Regions from separate parts of the Homo sapiens genome. Here regions 1, 3 and 4 are each reported to be linked to region 2. The links are microRNA targets in miRTarBase. Many come from high-throughput screens and were not tested one by one. Region 2 holds a microRNA gene; each other region holds the end of a gene's coding sequence.

Evidence for each region. The annotated mature microRNA hsa-miR-6086 reads GGAGGUUGGGAAGGGCAGAG and lies in region 2 at 2,328-2,347, opposite strand. An mRNA with a match to its seed (bases 2 to 7 or 8) in the 3' UTR can be bound and repressed. Matches are read on the target gene's strand: a 7mer-m8 pairs with bases 2 to 8, a 7mer-A1 pairs with bases 2 to 7 and ends in A, and an 8mer does both.
Region 1: the mRNA of PEX11B is a reported target of hsa-miR-6086. Seed matches in the 3' UTR shown: 7mer-m8 at 2,678-2,684.
Region 3: miRTarBase lists ITGAX as a target of hsa-miR-6086. Seed matches in the 3' UTR shown: 7mer-m8 at 3,229-3,235.
Region 4: the mRNA of NARF is a reported target of hsa-miR-6086. Seed matches in the 3' UTR shown: 7mer-m8 at 904-910, 7mer-m8 at 2,356-2,362 and 7mer-m8 at 2,953-2,959.

What each region holds. Positions count from the first base shown.
Region 1 is chr1:145,908,915-145,912,914 of GRCh38, forward strand. PEX11B (peroxisomal biogenesis factor 11 beta) reads right to left here. Exons shown (of 4, transcript NM_003846.3): 4 at 2,436-3,652. The coding sequence ends at 3,247. ITGA10 (integrin subunit alpha 10) reads right to left here and starts at 1,136. Exons shown (of 30, transcript NM_003637.5): 1 at 1,049-1,136. The coding sequence starts at 1,100.
Region 2 is chrX:13,588,419-13,592,639 of GRCh38, reverse strand. MIR6086 (microRNA 6086) reads right to left here and starts at 2,348; the gene lies at 2,294-2,348. It overlaps EGFL6 (EGF like domain multiple 6), which reads right to left. Exons shown (of 12, transcript NM_015507.4): 2 at 2,972-3,084.
Region 3 is chr16:31,381,338-31,385,558 of GRCh38, reverse strand. It overlaps ITGAX (integrin subunit alpha X), which reads right to left. Exons shown (of 30, transcript NM_000887.5): 30 at 2,560-3,756. The coding sequence ends at 3,652. Among named protein-coding and RNA genes, the nearest start is that of ITGAD, 9.9 kb to the left of the region's middle. RefSeq lists enhancers at 2,451-2,951, 2,952-3,452.
Region 4 is chr17:82,487,551-82,491,771 of GRCh38, forward strand. It overlaps NARF (nuclear prelamin A recognition factor), which reads left to right. Exons shown (of 11, transcript NM_012336.4): 11 at 366-2,987. The coding sequence ends at 607. Among named protein-coding and RNA genes, the nearest start is that of TRX-CAT1-8, 5.1 kb to the right of the region's middle. RefSeq lists an enhancer at 3,102-3,301.

The DNA of each region.
Region 1 (4,000 bases), not on the chromosome of region 2:
ATAGGAATCAGACTAGCCACGTGGAAGGTCACATCACATTTCTTTTTTGTCTCCTTACCCCTATAGGGCTTAGGATGAAGATTTTATATATTTAGATACAAATCTCAGCCAAGCATGGTGGCTCATGCCTATAATCCCGGCACTTTGGGTGGCTGTCGGGGGCGGATTGCTTGAGTCCAGGAGTTAAAGACCAGCCTGGCCAACATAGCAAAACTCTGTCTCTAAAAAAAAAAAAATTAGCCAGGCGTGGTAGCACACGCCTATAGTCCCAGCTACTCGGGAGGCTAAGGTGGAAGGATCACCTCAGCCTGGGAGGTTGAGGCTAGAGTGAGCCATGATCATGCCACTGCACTCCAGCTTGAATGACAGAGTGAGACCCTGTTTCAAAAAAAAAAATTAGCTGTGCGTGGTGGCGCGTACCTAGTAGTCCCAACTACTGAGCTGTGGTTGCACCACTGCACTCCAGCCTAGACAACAAAGTGAGACCCTATCTTTAAAAAATAATAATAATTATTATATACAATATATAACTATATAATATATAATTATGTTATATATTATATGTATATTATATATAATATATAATTATGTTATATATTATATGTATATTATATATAATATATAATTATGTTATATATTATATGTATATTATATATAATATATAATTATGTTACATATTATATGTATATTATATATAATATATAATTATGTTATATATTATATGTATATTATATATAATATATAATTGTTATATATTATATGTATATTATATATAATATATAATTATACATTATATATTATATAATTATTAGATACAAATCTTACACAAGGTCCTAGGCAGCTTTAGCCCCTGCCAGTCTCAATATTCAAACAGTCATATGTGAGGGCATAAAAATGCACAAGGACACAGACACACATACAAGAAATGTACAACCAGTGTTCGCTTCCTAACCTAAATCCCAAAGAATTTTAACTATAATGGTCCCAATTCCAAACAATCTATGTATCTTCCATCCCCACCAGAAACCAAGAAGTTAACTTCCCTCACCTGTCAGGAACACCAGGGGCAAGAACAGGTGAGTGACGAAGGGGAGTTCCATGCCTGATCGGTTTCTGTCCAGTATGAGAAGTCCTCTGGCCTCTGTCCCTCTCCTTTTCTGTTTTCTTCACTTTCCCTCCCATCCTGCCCCCTCCCAATGGCAGCTAAAAATAAAGTTGGAAGGAATGGGAGGAGTGATGGTGGGGAACTGTGGGGAGCCCCAGACCAAGGAAAACACTGAGCGATCTTAGTCTATTTCTCTGCCTTGGTGCTGCCCCCTGGAGGCCTCATCTCTATATCCAGAGAACATATTTTTTTGCCCATTTCTGCTATTTCTTTTTTTCTACTGTTTATTGTTGCCAGGTCAATAATGCTTTCCTCAAATTTGGAACAGGAGTGGGAGATGGATTCTTTTTTATAAGAAAAGAATCTTAAACTTTTGTTTAAAAGTTTTAGACAAATTATTTATATTGAGAATACAGACAGGGTTTCACTATGTTACCCAGGCTGGTCTTGAACTCCTGAACTCAAGGAATCCTCCCACCTCAGCCTCCCAAAGTGAGCCACTGCACCCAGCTGGGAGATAGGAGATAGATTCAGATTTTTTTTTTTCTTTTTTAAGGCAGAGTCTCACTCTGTCACCCAGGCTGGAGTGCAGTGGCACAATCTTGGCTCACTGCAACCTCTGTCTCCCACGTTCAAGCATTTCTCATGCCTCAGCCTCCCAGGTAGCTGGGACTACAGGCACATGCCACCATGCCTGGCTAATTTTTTATTTTTAGTAGAGGCAGGGTTTCACCATGTTGGCCAGGCTGGTCTTGAACTCCTGACCTTAAGAGATCCACCTGCCTCGGCCTCCCAAAGTGCTGGGATTACCGGCGTGAGCCACCACGCCTGGCCGATAGATTCACTTCCTAACCTTATTTATCTCAACCTGGAATATGGAAAATGAAAGAGCTGATAGCAGTGGTATCATTTCCCTACCCACCCAGGGGAGTCTCAACTTGTGAAGACACAGCTCCAAATCCTTACCAGCCCCACTCCACTTGGTTCTGTCCTTGGCTCTTAGCCTATGCTGTCATATGGCATTCTGCTTCTTAGAGGGATTATATCTGAACTGGTATGAGATGTGCTTTGTGGAGCCAGGACAATAACTTTAGTATTAGACCACTCCTCTGCCACCCCAACTCCTCAGCTAGGTTATAAACTTCTTAAAGTTGGGAGTGTGGAGCTTCTTAGATTTTTGGATGCCCACTAAGTATGTTGCTTTACATACTGTAGGTGCTCAAGAAAAATAATGTGGGTGATGTTAGTGGCTAATCCCGAGAAAAACCCAAACCACAGTGACAGGAATAGGGGCCTCAAATTACCAAAAAATGAGGGACCAGACCAAATGTCGATGAGCAAACTGAACTTTAATTTGCTTACCTGAAAGGCTTGCTCTTCATTATTGGCATAGGCCACAGCTATTTACACAGAATCATTGTACAGGATTTACAGCAAGATGCTACACATAGCATCATTCTGGATAAGCGACAAAGGAGTAAGAACAGACTGGGGAATAAAGCTCTGAAATCAAAGTGTAAGCAGAAATCTGAAGGTAGGTGTACAAGGAAGGATAAGGGCCAAATGATGAGCGAGGTTGGTGAGGTAGACATAAGGGAGGAAGAGGAAACATCCAACAACTTGTGGTGCAGAGATATAAGGGAAGAGTCCACTGGCACATAGTCTTAAAAATTATGTTTGGAGTTTGAAGGAGGAAAAATCTGCCATAAGCCACCTCTGTGAGAAAAAAGAAGGCAGTTAGAACCTTACAGGCCAAACCTTATACCTCCCCTATCAAAAAGTAATTCTGCTGATTAAATCCCTGGATAGGAGAATGAGAAGGTTGAAAAAAGAAAGAGAGAGATGCATAGACACAGAACCTTAAACAGAGTTAAGAGACACAAAGTAAATATATTCAAGAGAGACACAAAGAAAGAGGAAAAGAACAGAAGCTCAGGCACATCTAGAAATTAGAGACATCCTATTAACTTCACGAGTCATCTTTCCTTACCTCATCTTCCCCAAAGCTCTTCCTCCACCCCTAAATCTCTGAATTTCTAACTTTAACCAAAGAGTAGAATTCGAATGAGGCTGGCACATGGGGGACGATCTAAGATTCCATCTCACCAATTCAGGTCCCCTCCTTATCCTGTACCGGAAGGTCAGGGCTTGAGTCGTAGCCAGGGATAGATTAGGGTGAGAATAGACAGGATGGAGGACACGAGGCCACAAAGCCCCACAATCCCAGGGCCACAGCGCCAGAGGCCTAGTTTGTCCAGAGGAATGAAGAGATCACAGGCATTTCTGACCACGTCTAGCAGAAGTGGGGGATGACCTCTAAGGACTCGAGCCAGGAGCAGGACTTGCAGCCGAAGTTTCAGAGCCAGTTGGGGCAGACCTCCTCCTGGAGTCCCTGGTCCCCCAAGTCCCCCAGTTTCACTTCCTCCTGGGACTCCTCCTCCAGAACCTTTCAGTCGCCGGCTACAAGCAGAAGACTCTTGCTCCATCAGTAGGCGAATCTCATAAGCATCACGGCTCAAATTCATGATGAGGGAAAACAAATAGTACCTGATACACAGAGCAAAAGGGTCAGTAAGGGCATGTATACCTACTTAACATATCCAACATCACATTTTAACATTTTCTTTTCCTGTAGCAAAGAGATTACACATTAGATCAGAAGTAAAGTGAATGCTATTACCCCTATTAGAAATGTCCTCCATCGAGGACACTATGCTAAGCAAAATAAGCCAGACACAGAAAGACAAATACTGCATAATCTCACTTATAGGTGGAAGCTAAAATAAGGCCGGGCGTGGTGGCTCATGCCTGTAATCCCAGCACTTTGGGAGGCCAAGGCAGGTGGATCACCTGAGGTCAGGAGTTTAAGACCAGCCTGGCCAACATGGTGAAACC
Region 2 (4,221 bases):
ACAGAACTTTGGCAGGCCTCTCCTGTGCAACTGATCAGTTTTTGTCTTATTAAATAATGAGGCATATATTTGGCTACAGTGCTTGTCTTTCATCCACTACTTGTTTCCAAGTGCCTTCAGGACAGGGACTTAAACATTCATCATTGTTTCCCCTGTAGCATTTAATATAGTGTTGTAAACATGTTAAATATTTGAATATTTTTGAATAATGAATAAAGTAATTACTGTAGAACTTTTAATGGGGGAACATTTTATGGCCCTGAACAAATCATAAGGGAAAAATGCTTCCCCAGCAAGGTTTTTCCACTTTTAGAGACAAAAGAGAGAGAATTTAATTTCCAGTGTCTACTTTGTTATGGATATGTACTTGGAGTTGCAACTTTAAATTCAGATGTTAGAAAAATAAATCTTTTTTTTTTTTTTTAAGCCCTGAAGACCTCTAGTTGTTCCCTGGAAACTGATTTCCAATGTGGTCCAGACAGGAAAGCCCAGCATAAATGCCAAATAGAACATAGGAGAAATGGTGAATAATACCCTTGCTATAAGGTTAAAGCTTCAGTAAGATGTTTTCAATTTACAGTAACTTTGGATCTGTGACTTCAACAGCCAATCGACAGCAAGGGAAATTCAGTTTGTGTTTAAAATGGCCTGAGATTGAAGCATGATTTAGACAAAGTAAAAGTCTTATTTGGTTCTCCCCCAAACTTCTCTATCTGAAGCTTTTCATCAGGTACTTGTTTATGGACAATTCTGTATTTCATCTCACTGAAGTGGCATACATTTTAAGGTTAATGATATCGAACTGATGAGACCCTGCCTTGGGAGGAGATTTAGACAGGGTAGAGGCTGAGAGCTAGAAGGCTCCAGGATACATAGAGGCAGGGCTTCAAAAGGAGTGAAGGGCAAATAGATGGACAGAGGGGAAGGCCTGGGTAGACTGTGACCTCACAGCCTGGGGTCTGGCTCTCCTTGTTGGGGCAGGTTGATGTGTATTCTTATTATCATGCATCCCACAACTCTGGCTTAGAAATCAGAAACCCAGCAATCAGGGAATAACTACCCTGTTATTTGGTGCTTCAAGAAACATGACTTTACCATCAAGAAGGACCATGCAAATTGGATAAAACATGATACACATTTTAGATCTAAAAATCATTGCAATTTAAGACCTGAACATTTGACTGGAGCAGTAGGTGTGCTGACCGTCTCTTCAGCTTGCAAAACTTGCATAGTGAGCATTTTGCTTGAACCCCCTGCACTTGCCCTTTTAACACCTTGCCTTCATTTATTCACCAGCGACATGCTGGGTCTCACAAGTTTTATGGCAGTAGACGCTGATGTTCGTGCAACTGTAAGAGAGACTCTAAATCATGTGTTTCACGTGGTTTTTGCCCCTTTCCACCTGACTGACTTCAAATAAAAATGTGTTATGTTGTGTCTAGCAAAAGAATAAAGCCACATTTAATCCCCCCATCACCTGGTGCTTTAATGACGAGAAGTCTGTGATGAGAATTATTGGTCCTTCCTGAAGGAATGGTAATTTATGAGGTATTTTCTATGCATGCCAGGTAATGAACTCACCCTTTAATGCATACATTCCTTACTCTCAGAGGTAGGTATTGCTCTCTCCAGGTTGCAGAGGAGGAAATTGAGCCTTAGCTAGCTTACCTTAGCTAGCTTGCCCAAGGTCACCCACGTCAGTCTGGTTCTCAATGCCCTTGATCATGACACTATCAATCCAATCAGGATGAGGACCCACCCTTTTAATTGACACAAGTCCCAGGAGGATATTCTAACTTCCTTTATCTAAGTGGGCAATGATGATCTTTGTTTTTGTCTAGTATTTTTATGCTCTTGTCATCTTGTCACAAGCAAACTATGATGGCAGAAGGTTTTGCATAATATGGAACATGTGGGAACGATATCAATGTTTTCTATTGTTTTATAGATTTTGGATATTATCAAGTTCTGACCCCACTTATGGTCAATCCAGATATTTTTTAACCAGCCAGAGAGAAGGAGGTTGGGGCAGGAACAGACTAGCAAAAAGAAGGTAGCATTGTTATTCCTAAAAATAGCTAACATGTTAGTGCTTTTATGGGACCTGCAACTGTGTTGTTATCCCATTTAATAGATAAATAACTTAGGATGAGGCACATGCTACCTACTGAAGGACACAGGGACAGTGAGAGTAGACTACTGCCCTGAAGGAATACACCCCTGGTGAGACAGTCAGGAGGAATGTGGATTTGGTTCTGCTACACTGCCAGTGTTGGTCGTTATGGAAAGTCATAAAAAGAAAAACAAGGCAAAAACTTTATGCTCATCTCTGCCCTTCCCAACCTCCTTGAAATGATCAGAGGCCTCTCTCGGAGTTCCTAACACATAGTCTGAGAAACAATGTCCAAGGCAAATTATGGTTCCTTGGTTTGCAATGTACAAAAAAATCAGCAAAATACTTAAAATCTTTGCATATATGCATATGTACCTTGAAAGCATTTAGAAATTGGCAGTATGAATTTTAAAAATGTGAGTTACAAATCTATAAGCTAAAAGGTGTACTTATTTTGTGGCTGAAGCCTACTGGTTGGGTGATTAATAATTAAAGTTTATTGCATTGGAAATCACTTAAATTATAATTAGAGGAGAAATTTACCAGCCTGCTTTTGCCCATCTTAGTTCCTTTAGATTAAAAAGAAAACCAAAAACAAACAACCCAGTCATACTCATTAAGATAATCACAAAAATAATTGACAAGACAGTCTTCTAAAATAAATCATGCCAAGTATGATGGCGTCAGCCACATTTTGTCTGGGAAGAGATCTCATAGGAACCCAGACCTTGGTTATTGGTAGTTATGCATGTCCTTGCCTGAGAGATCCACTGGCAATTTTGTGGCAGTTCATGGTATGACAGATAAAAACCTAAGGGCCCTGATCCAAGTGCAGGGTCTGAGTTTTTACAAAATTACCTTCACAGACTCCCTTGCTGTTTCTTCTCCAGCCGTAGCAGCAGGCCAGTTTAGTTCCATAGTGACAGACCCCAGGCTGACGTGCCGATGCTAACAACCCGTGATGCCTTGCACTGCAGATAAAGAACTACATGTTAGTATTGAGAAAATAGAAAAGACAACAGAAACTCTTCCCTACTACTAAAAGAACCAGAGATGTCAATTACCTGGTTAATTTCAACGAACCCGCAGTAAGTGCTAAATTAGATTTTGAAAACCTGAATTTTGGGGTTGCCAGCCTTCCTCAATAATTAGTTTCAACCATTTCCTTCTTCCCCACGGTTAAAAGAATCTATAAAACTAGGGCACATGAAGATGTCCAAAGTATATGTTTTTGAACCTTGTAGAGTGTCACTTTTCAGATCTGCTCTGTATACGCACAGCAACTATCCAGTTCTTTGTCTATTTCAGTCACTTTCTAATCCTGTGGCTTTGTCCCAGACCAGAGCTCTGCACTTTTATCCCACTGGCACCTGGGAACCATTGAATAGACTGGAATCAACATACACTATAGATGATTAAGAGTTGGAAGGGCTCGTTCAGCAAAGCCCTCTTATGTTACAGAGGAGGAAACTCCAGTCCAATGGAGTGGAGTCACATCCCCAGCAGAGCTGGGTGTTGGGAATTCTAGCCCAGGGCTCGTTCCCATTGACCTCCTGGAAACCCAATTTGCTAAACTGCTTAATTTTAGAGCAGAGATCGGCAAACATTTTCTGTAAAAAGCCAGATGGTAAGTATTTTAGGCTTTGTAGGGCCATAAGATATCTGTCCAAGTACAAAAGCAGCCATAGGCAATAGTAAACAGATGCGCATGACTGTGTTCCAATAAAACTTTATTTATGGACACTGTAATTTGAATAGCATATAATTTTCCTGTGTCATGATATGGTATTCTCCTTTTGCTCCATCTTCTAACATTTAAAAATGTAAAAACTGTTCTTCGCTCATGGGCTGTTTATAAAGAGGGGATCACCTAGCTTTGGCCAGCAGGCTGTAGCTTGCCTGATCTAGATGCCTGAAAAAGGTGAGCCCCCTGTCCCCCACCAAGTGCCCCCAAGTAGTGCCGCCATGGATGAAGCTCACTGCATGTTTACCTACTTACTGTCCTGGTATTGGACAGGGTTGCTACCAGACTTTGAAGGAAAATACTTGCATTGTATGTTTAGTGGAGGGCTGTGATTATTTCCTTACACATATTAAATACACTGTAA
Region 3 (4,221 bases), not on the chromosome of region 2:
TTAAAAAGCACCTTTGATTTATGTCACTGTGGTTTTGCTGTCTCCTCTGTATTCGGTGACAACACTAATCACTTTTGAATAGGAAAGCTACATGTAGCAGTTGTTCTAAGAAATCTCTATTGCTTTACCTGAGGCAGGCAGATCATGAGGTCAGGGGTTCGAGACCAGCCTGACCAACATGGTGAAACCCCCGTCTATACTAAAAATACAAAAATTAGCTGGGCGTGGTGGTGCGCGCCTGTAATCCCAGCTACTCAAGAGGCTGAGGCAGGAGAATCACTTGAACCCAGGAGGCAAAGGTTGCAGTGAGCCAAGATGATGCCACTGCACTCCAGCCTGGGCGACAGAGCAAGACTCCATCTCAATAAATAAATAAATAAGAAAATAACACAAAAGCTTTCAGAGGTTCATGCGACTGTTTGATAAAGTTTCAGAATGGGCAGCACACTAGGGACAAATACATGTCAGAACCAATACAACCTACCTGTCAGGGAGTATAATACCTTCTAGATATTTTCGGGTTTTGGCTCACAATCACTTATTCCGGTATGCATGTCTATACTATACGTGCACTGGGCTCAATATTTAAAAGTCAATATTGACTTTGATGACATTATTGTAAATTGTAGCAATTAGATTAGTTTTTAATCACAACTTCCATGCTTTTGAGCCATTGATCCATTTTGTGATTCGGGGATCTAATGCAACACAATAGCCAACCCTGAAAATGCAAATGTAATAAATGTACACAATAACACACAAAGGAAGAATATCAGAAAATAACACCTTGTCGGCCAAGTACAGTGGCTCATACCTCTAATCCCAGCACTTTCGGAGGCCGAGGAGGGCGGATCATGAGGTCAGGAGTTCGAGACCAGCCTAGTCAACATGGTGAAACCCCATCTATACTAAAAATACAAAAATTAGCTGGAAATGGTGGTGCCTGCCTGTAATCCCAGCTACTCCAGAGGCTGAGGCAGGAGAATCGCTTGAACTTGAACCTGGGAGGCGGAGGTTGCAGTGAGCCAAGATCATGCCACTGCACTCCAGCCTGGGTGACAGAGCGAGACTCTGTCTCAAAAATAAATAAATAAAAATGGGCATGGTGGTACGCCCCTGTACTCCCAGCTACTTGGGAGGCTGAGGCAGAGGCATCACTTGAACCCAGGAGACAGAGGTTGCGTTGAGCCGAGATCGTGCCACTACACTCCAGCCCGGGAGACAAAGTGAGACTATCTCAAAAAATAATAATAATAAAATAAAATAGAAAATAACAACTTGTTGCCTGAATTTAGACAAGAACCCACTGTAGTCCCTGGAGTCCGTGTGCCACACAATTATTAAGGCCACAACACTATTTCTGTGCAAATCACTAGTTTCAAATGTTTGAGATGTATGGGTTTCTTGCTCTTTTTCTCTAAAACCTTCCACTTAGAAGACCATCATTGACCACCAGTGGTTCGTGGAACACATTTTGAGAAACACCACTCTAGGGTCAATTTTTTTTTTTTTTTCTGAGACATGATCTTTCTCTGTTGCCCAGGCTGGAGTGTGGTGGTCCAAATCACAGCTCACTGTATCCTCAACCTCCCAGGCTCAAGTGATCCTCCTGCTTCAGCCTACCAAGTAGCTGGGACTACAAGCACATGCCACCATGCCTGGGTAATTTTTAAATTTTTTTGTAGACACAAGGTTTCAATATATTACCCAGGGTGGTCTCAAATTTCTGAGCACAAACAATCCTCCTGCCTCGGCCTCCCAAAGTGCTGGGATTACAGGCATGAGCCACTGTGCCCAGCCATTAGGGCTGAATTCTTACAAAGCCTTATCTTCTGATTCCCTTTCTGAGGAAACTGCATAATAATTAGTCATCCTGGGGACTCAAAAGCTTCAAAATCCACAGGGATTTTGGAGCCTCTGCTGATGTATAGGACAGACATTTTTGGCTGGAGGTAAAGGGCCACTTTCCATCTTCCCTTCAAATCACTCAACTGCCTCCCTTCTGTTTTTCTAATTGAAACATCCACACGGCCCGGGTCCCTTGCTGGTGATAGCTGCAGTGGCGTCACTCCGAGGTCAGGAATGGCTTGTCCTGTGAGGCCCCCAGCTCAGTGCCAAGCACCATGATGAACTTTATGCCAGGATGGTGGCATAATAGCAAGAATGACCTTATTGTGGGCAGCAGCTCTCAATGTGGGACCCCAACATGTTCTTCAATCACTCACTATATGCAGACAGTGTGCCCTTCAACACATCCTAGGACTTGTAGGAAACGCTTGTGAGTATTGGTCACTCCAGAGACCTTTCCAGGTGGAAAAGTAGCCACTGGAGGTTGTCCCTTCTCTATTCTATGCCCCCTCCACCCGACAGCTCCACCAGCTTACCATCGGCACCAGCCCTGAGAGTGGAGTGAGCAGATTAAGAGGTCAGGTTACTTCCAAGAGAGGGATATTCACAACCCTACTCTGGTTAACTTCTTGTCCTGGCCCCAGGCCTCAGTGCTGGCCAGGGTCCACCGTGGTAAAGGGACCCCATGGGTGTCATCCTTCAGGACTCATATCCACAGAAGGCTTTTTTATTTTTAGACCTTTGACATATTTCCCAAGAGCGGTAGATGCATCTTTTTGTGCATGTTTTAATTTATTAACACAAACATTTAAAGTACGCTTTTTAAAAAAATAATCATGTCTTGGCATTTTTTCAGGTACTATATTCATAGCCTCAAAAAATAGAAGTGGTTGGGTCTCTTCTGCCCCTGGGGCTGGGTGAGCTGCAGCCGCACCGGGGCCATGTCCCTCCCTAGAGGGCGCTCCTCCCTTCCAGCCAGCAATGTTGCCCAACGCGGGAGGCCAGCTGTGCAGAACCCAGCATGCAGGCATCTCACTCCCAATTCAGCCTGGGAAATCGGAACTGAGAGCCCCACGATGAAGCCCTGAGCTGATGCTGACATGACACTAATTCACTGGAAACGAGGGTGATGGGGGCACAGAGCCTCTCATGCTGTGCGCCCTGAAGCCCACCCTCTGGGATGGAAGGGGACTTCTCACGCGAAGCTGGAGAGTTCAGACATTGTCCTGAGGGTAATGGGGAGCTGTTGAAGACAGGTGGGGATGAGCAGCATATTCAGAACTGTATTTTAGAAAGATCGGGCCGGGCGAGGTGGCGTGTGCCTGTAGTCCCAGCTACTCAGGAGGCTGAGACAGCAGAATTACTTGAACCCGGGAGGCGGAGGTTGCAGTGAGCCGAGATCACGCCATTGCACTCCAGCCTGGGTGACAGAGCGAGACTCCGTCTCAAAAAAAAAAAAAAGAAAAGAAAAAAAAAAAAAAAGAAAGGAAAGAAAGATCATTCGTGCCTCATGGGAGAAGGGAGACTGAGGCCTGGGGGTATTGTCCATGTATTTCTAGGTAGAAATTGCAAGTCAAGTCCTTTGGGGAACACAGCAGGGACCCTGTCCTAAGGGTTTCCAGTTGGAACCTTGACAAGACAAAGGCCCCTTCCCAAGCAAGACGTTTTCTCCCAAAGACAGGAAGCAGGCCCATCCCAGCCTCTCTCGGTGGTGCAGTGGTTCCTCCCCGTCAGGCCTGACAGGTGAGGGTAAGTAAGTGGGGAAAACTCGCGGGGGAGAAGAAGTCCAAGGCAAAGAGGGGATCATTTCTCACTGGGCGGGCTGGGGGTCTGTGTCCCGTTTTCTGGGGCAATTTGTCCATTTGCCTCCTCCATCATTTCCTTGTACTGACGCTTGAAGAAGCCAACCTAGGGGGGAGGACGAAGAAGAAACTCAGGAAGCCCATTCAGTGGAAGAGAGGAAAAGAGATGACTGAGGGAGAGGGGTCACTATTTCTGAAATCCTTGCTAGGTTCAAAGCACTGCACTAGGAACTTTATATGCATCATGTCATCTAGATTTAGCCAAAATTATTTTCTTTTTGAGATGGAGTCTCACTCTGTTGCCCAGGCTGGAGTGCAGTGGCGTGATCTCGGCTCACTGCAACCTCCACCATGCCCAACTAATTTTTGTATTTTTAGTAGAGACGGGGTTTCACCAGGTAGGCCAGGCTGGTCTCTTAACTCCTGACTTCAAGTGATCCACCTGCCTCGATCTCCCAAACTGCTGGGATTACAGCCATGAGCCACCGTGCCCAGCCTAGATTTAGCCAAAATTCTATGAGCTGGGGTAGAATCACCTTCACATTGAGAAATCAAGGCCCAGAGTGGAGCA
Region 4 (4,221 bases), not on the chromosome of region 2:
CCTTGAGGAAGACCCTGGCCTGTTCAGCCAGCCCTAGCCTTAGGCCACACAACATTCCACGTCCCCTTTATTCCTCTCCTGCTTCCAACTCTTCCCTGTGAGGCAAAACTTCCTTAAGACTATCCCGGCTGGGTGCGGTGGCTCACGCCAGTGGTCCCAGCTCGAAGTAGGATTGCCGCTTGAAGCCAGGAGTTCAAGACCAGCCTGAGCAACATAGCAACACCCGCCCCTCCCGCCCAATCTCTACAAAAAATTTAAAAATCAGCCGGGCAAGGTGGTGTGTGTCTGTAGTTCTAGCTGCTCAGGAAGCTAAGGCAGAAAGATCGCCTGAGCCCAGGATAAACTTACCTGTGTTTATCTTTCAGGATGCTTAAATGGCAGAGGCCAAGCCCAGACTCCAGACGGACATGCGGATAAGGCCCTGCTGCGGCAGATGGAAGGCATTTACGCTGACATCCCTGTGCGGCGTCCGGAGTCCAGTGCACACGTGCAGGAGCTGTACCAGGAGTGGCTGGAGGGGATCAACTCCCCCAAGGCCCGAGAGGTGCTGCATACCACGTACCAGAGCCAGGAGCGTGGCACACACAGCCTGGACATCAAGTGGTGAAGTCAGGCCAGGGCCTTCCAGCTGCTCTTGGGGCCAGAGCCAAGAGCCTCTCAGTAGAGGGAGGGGCTGCCCTGAGTGGAGTATTAAAGACACTTAAGAAAACCGCTCAATGGATTACTTTGGTTTCTCCGAGTTCCCTGCTACCCCGTTTATTGGAGGCCCCTCAGGCAGTTTCATGTGGTGCTATCTTCATAATAGGTGTGGGATTGGAACTTTTTTTTTCTTTTTTTTTTTTTGAGACGGAGTCTCACTCTGTCACCCAGGCTGGAGTGCAATGGCGCAATCTCAGCTCACTGCAACCTCTGCCTCCCGGGTTCAAGCGATTCTCTTGCCCCAGCCTCCCGAGTAGCTGGGACTAACGCGCACACCACCATGCCCAGCTAATTTTTGTATTTTTAGTAGAGATGGGGTTTCACTATGTTGGCCAGGCTGGTATTGAATTCCTGACCTCCTGATCCACCCGCCTTGGCCTCCCAAAGTGCCAGGACTGCAGGCATGAGCCACCGTGCCTGGCAGATTGGAACGTTTTAACATGAGAGGAGCACTTCCCCAATTTATCCCTTCATCCTAAGATTGTGAAAAAGTCCCAAAGAGTGGGAATGGAGACAGACTACTGTATTTTAGGTTTAAAAAGAAAAATCCAGAAAGTGTCCTGTGAAGAGCTAGGACCCCCAGAGGTTCTAATGCACATGACTTGAAGGTGATTTGATGTGGGAGTGAGGGCAGAGGGTGGGGTGGCTGTGCCTGTGGACTCCTGTGGCCCTGGGGTTGTTAGGGCAGGCAGTCCACAGTCCCAGATCCCTGCCCATTTTGGCTCTTTCTTTTACCCACTCATATTTTCCTTGAAAATGTTTTTGCCAGAACATTAATAACTGTCAGCCTTTTAGAATCAGGAGACTTACGTACAAATCTGGATTTTCAGCTTTTCTTAGAAAAACTGTAGTTTCTGACAACAGTAGGCCCCATTCCTCACAGCCAGTCACCACCCTCCTCCCATTCCTCACAGCCAGTCACCACCCTCCTGGACCATACTCGGCCCTGGGCCATTCCTCACAGCCAGTCACCACCCTCCTCCCATTCCTCACAGCCAGTCACCACCCTCCTGGACCACACTCGGCCCTGGGCCATTCCTCACAGCCAGTCACCACCCTCCTGGACCATACTCAGGGCCCTGGAGGCCTGGCAACCCAGGCCCCAACTCAAACTTGTACATTCAGTCTTTCAGTCGGACTCGCACTGGGGCAAGGGTGACAGACACGAGAATGGAAAATTGAGAAGGCTGCCCGCACCAGCTGGGTGGGTGCAGGGGGCCCCAGCTCATCATCAGCACTGTCGTGGGGTGGGAGTCGGGGGTAAAGGTTCCGTCTGACCCTGAGGGGTTGAGGATATTCAGGTGGTCCAGCCTCCCGCAGAAGACTTCCCTGTCACCCTTGGCAGACAGGTTTCTTCTCACACGGCCCTGGCCCATCCACTCGCCATGAAGCCCTCTGTGCTCAGGGTGATGGAGCCCCCTCCATTCTGGCACTGCACTGTGGGCATGAGCTTGCCTTAAAAAGAAAGGAGAGGCCAGGCACGGTGGCTCGTGCCCTATAATCCCAGCACACTGGGAGGCCAAGGTGGGAGGATTGCTGGAGTCCAGGAGTTTCTACATGGGAGACTCTGTCTCTACAAATTTTTTTTTTTTTTTTGAGACAGAGTCTCACTTTGTCACCCAGGCTGGAGTTCAGTGGCGTGATCTCGGCTCACAGCAACCTCCGCCTCCTGGGTTCAAGCGATTCTCCTGCCTCAGCCTCTGGAGTAGCTGGGATTACAGGCGCGCGCCACCGCGCCTGGCTAATTGTATTCTTAGTTGAGACGGGTTTCGCCATGTTGATCGGGCCGGTCAGGCTGGAATTTCTGACCTCAGGTGATCCAACCACCTCAGCCTCCCAAAATGCTGGGATTACAGGCGTGAGCCACTGCACCTGGCAAAAAATTTTTTTTTAAAAAGGAGAAAGCAGTTTAACCACAAACAGTGAAACAGAGCTGGCAGACGCCTGAAACTCCATGGAACCATGCAGCTGTACCCTAGGGCTCCTCCCAGGAAAAGAGAGATGTCAACGTGGCCCAAGGTGTCCTGAAGCACTGGGATTGGATTAACTCGAGCGATGGCCTTCCCAGCCCTCCGTGCTGCAGAGCCTCTGCTCGCTAGGCTGCCTTCATCTCACTCTGTGTGCTGTGCCTGTGCACCTGTCTTGTCAATAACTGCATATATTGTGTTGCGTTGCCTGTCTTGCTGGATAACTGCATATATTGTGTTCAGTTGTGTATTTGTTTTGCTTTCAGTCTATATACAGTTGGGTTTCCAACCTCTGATTCTGGAATAAACAGTTGCAGCGTGTCTGAGTGAATGGTTGAGTGAGCCGAGCCACCTGCTGCCCCAGCAGGGCCACATCTTGTGGTGTGTTGCCGTCCTCACTGCGGCCACGCCAGGTGGCCTCGCCCTGTGCTTTCTGAGCCACCACCTGGTGTGGAGTCAGGAGAGTCCTCTGTCTCCCTCCAGGAAGCTGCTCACCAGGCCTAGAACACCAGAAGTCGGTAGAGGGCCACCCTTGTCCAGCTACAGTGAAGAGATCACCTCCTGCAGTAACCACTGCGCAGGGCACCACAGCTGGCCTGCCGTGAAGCCGCCCCTGCAGGTCGCGTGGGGAGGCCAGGCTGAGGCACTGGGCACCAACATGAGACACCAGAGGTCCCCCGTGCCTGCTGGTGGGTTATAGCCATGGGGACTGTGTGCATTTTCTTCTGCACAGGAGAAAAGTGGCGAGATTTCCTTCATTGTAACCGGAACGGTATTAGCCGTCAGGCCAAGGCGCCTAGATGTGGAGGCAGCACACTGGTCGGGAGGGATGGTGTGCCTGGCCCGTGCCTGCTGGTGAGCCAGGCTGGTCCTGGCATGAGGCAGCACGCTGGTTGGGGGGATGGTGTGCCCGGCCCGTGCCCGCTGGTGATCCAGGCTGACCTGGGGGGATGGTGTGCCCGGCCCATGCCCACTAGTGAGCCAGGCTGGTCCTGGTGTGAGGAGGAGGAGGAGGAGGAGGACGAGATGAGCCCTGGGTGGCATCCCGTGCTGGCACCACCATGTAGGAACATGGCCATGTGTGCTCTGGTGCTGCCATGTACTGCAGGGGACCGGAACACGTCTGAGCTGATAAACGTGTTGCCATCCCAGTGAACAGATCTGCTGTTCGGTGCCTGTGGTCTGATGGGCAGCGCCTAGGTTTCTCAATTCCATTTCCACCTGGCCTGAGAGCTTGTACTCGTCGCAGCCAGTGTAGACTGTCCGCACTGGTCCTTAGTGTTGCTGCAGTTGCAAATGGGCTCATCCACTGTGCCTGCCTGTTGGTTTGCCGCTTGCCTGGGATGTAGATCTAGGGTGAACCCTTGGGTGTGTGCCGGCTTTGAGGGTGTCCCATGGCCTCATCTGCGGGCCCAGAGCTGAGCAACTGAGGCGTCTGGACACATGGCCTGCCACAGTCGTGTGACCTTCACGCCGAGTCTAGGCCAGAGATGTCAGAGGAGGGAATTGCGGCCCAGGCAGGGGCTGACTTGCCCAAGGCCACTTGGCCTCCAGA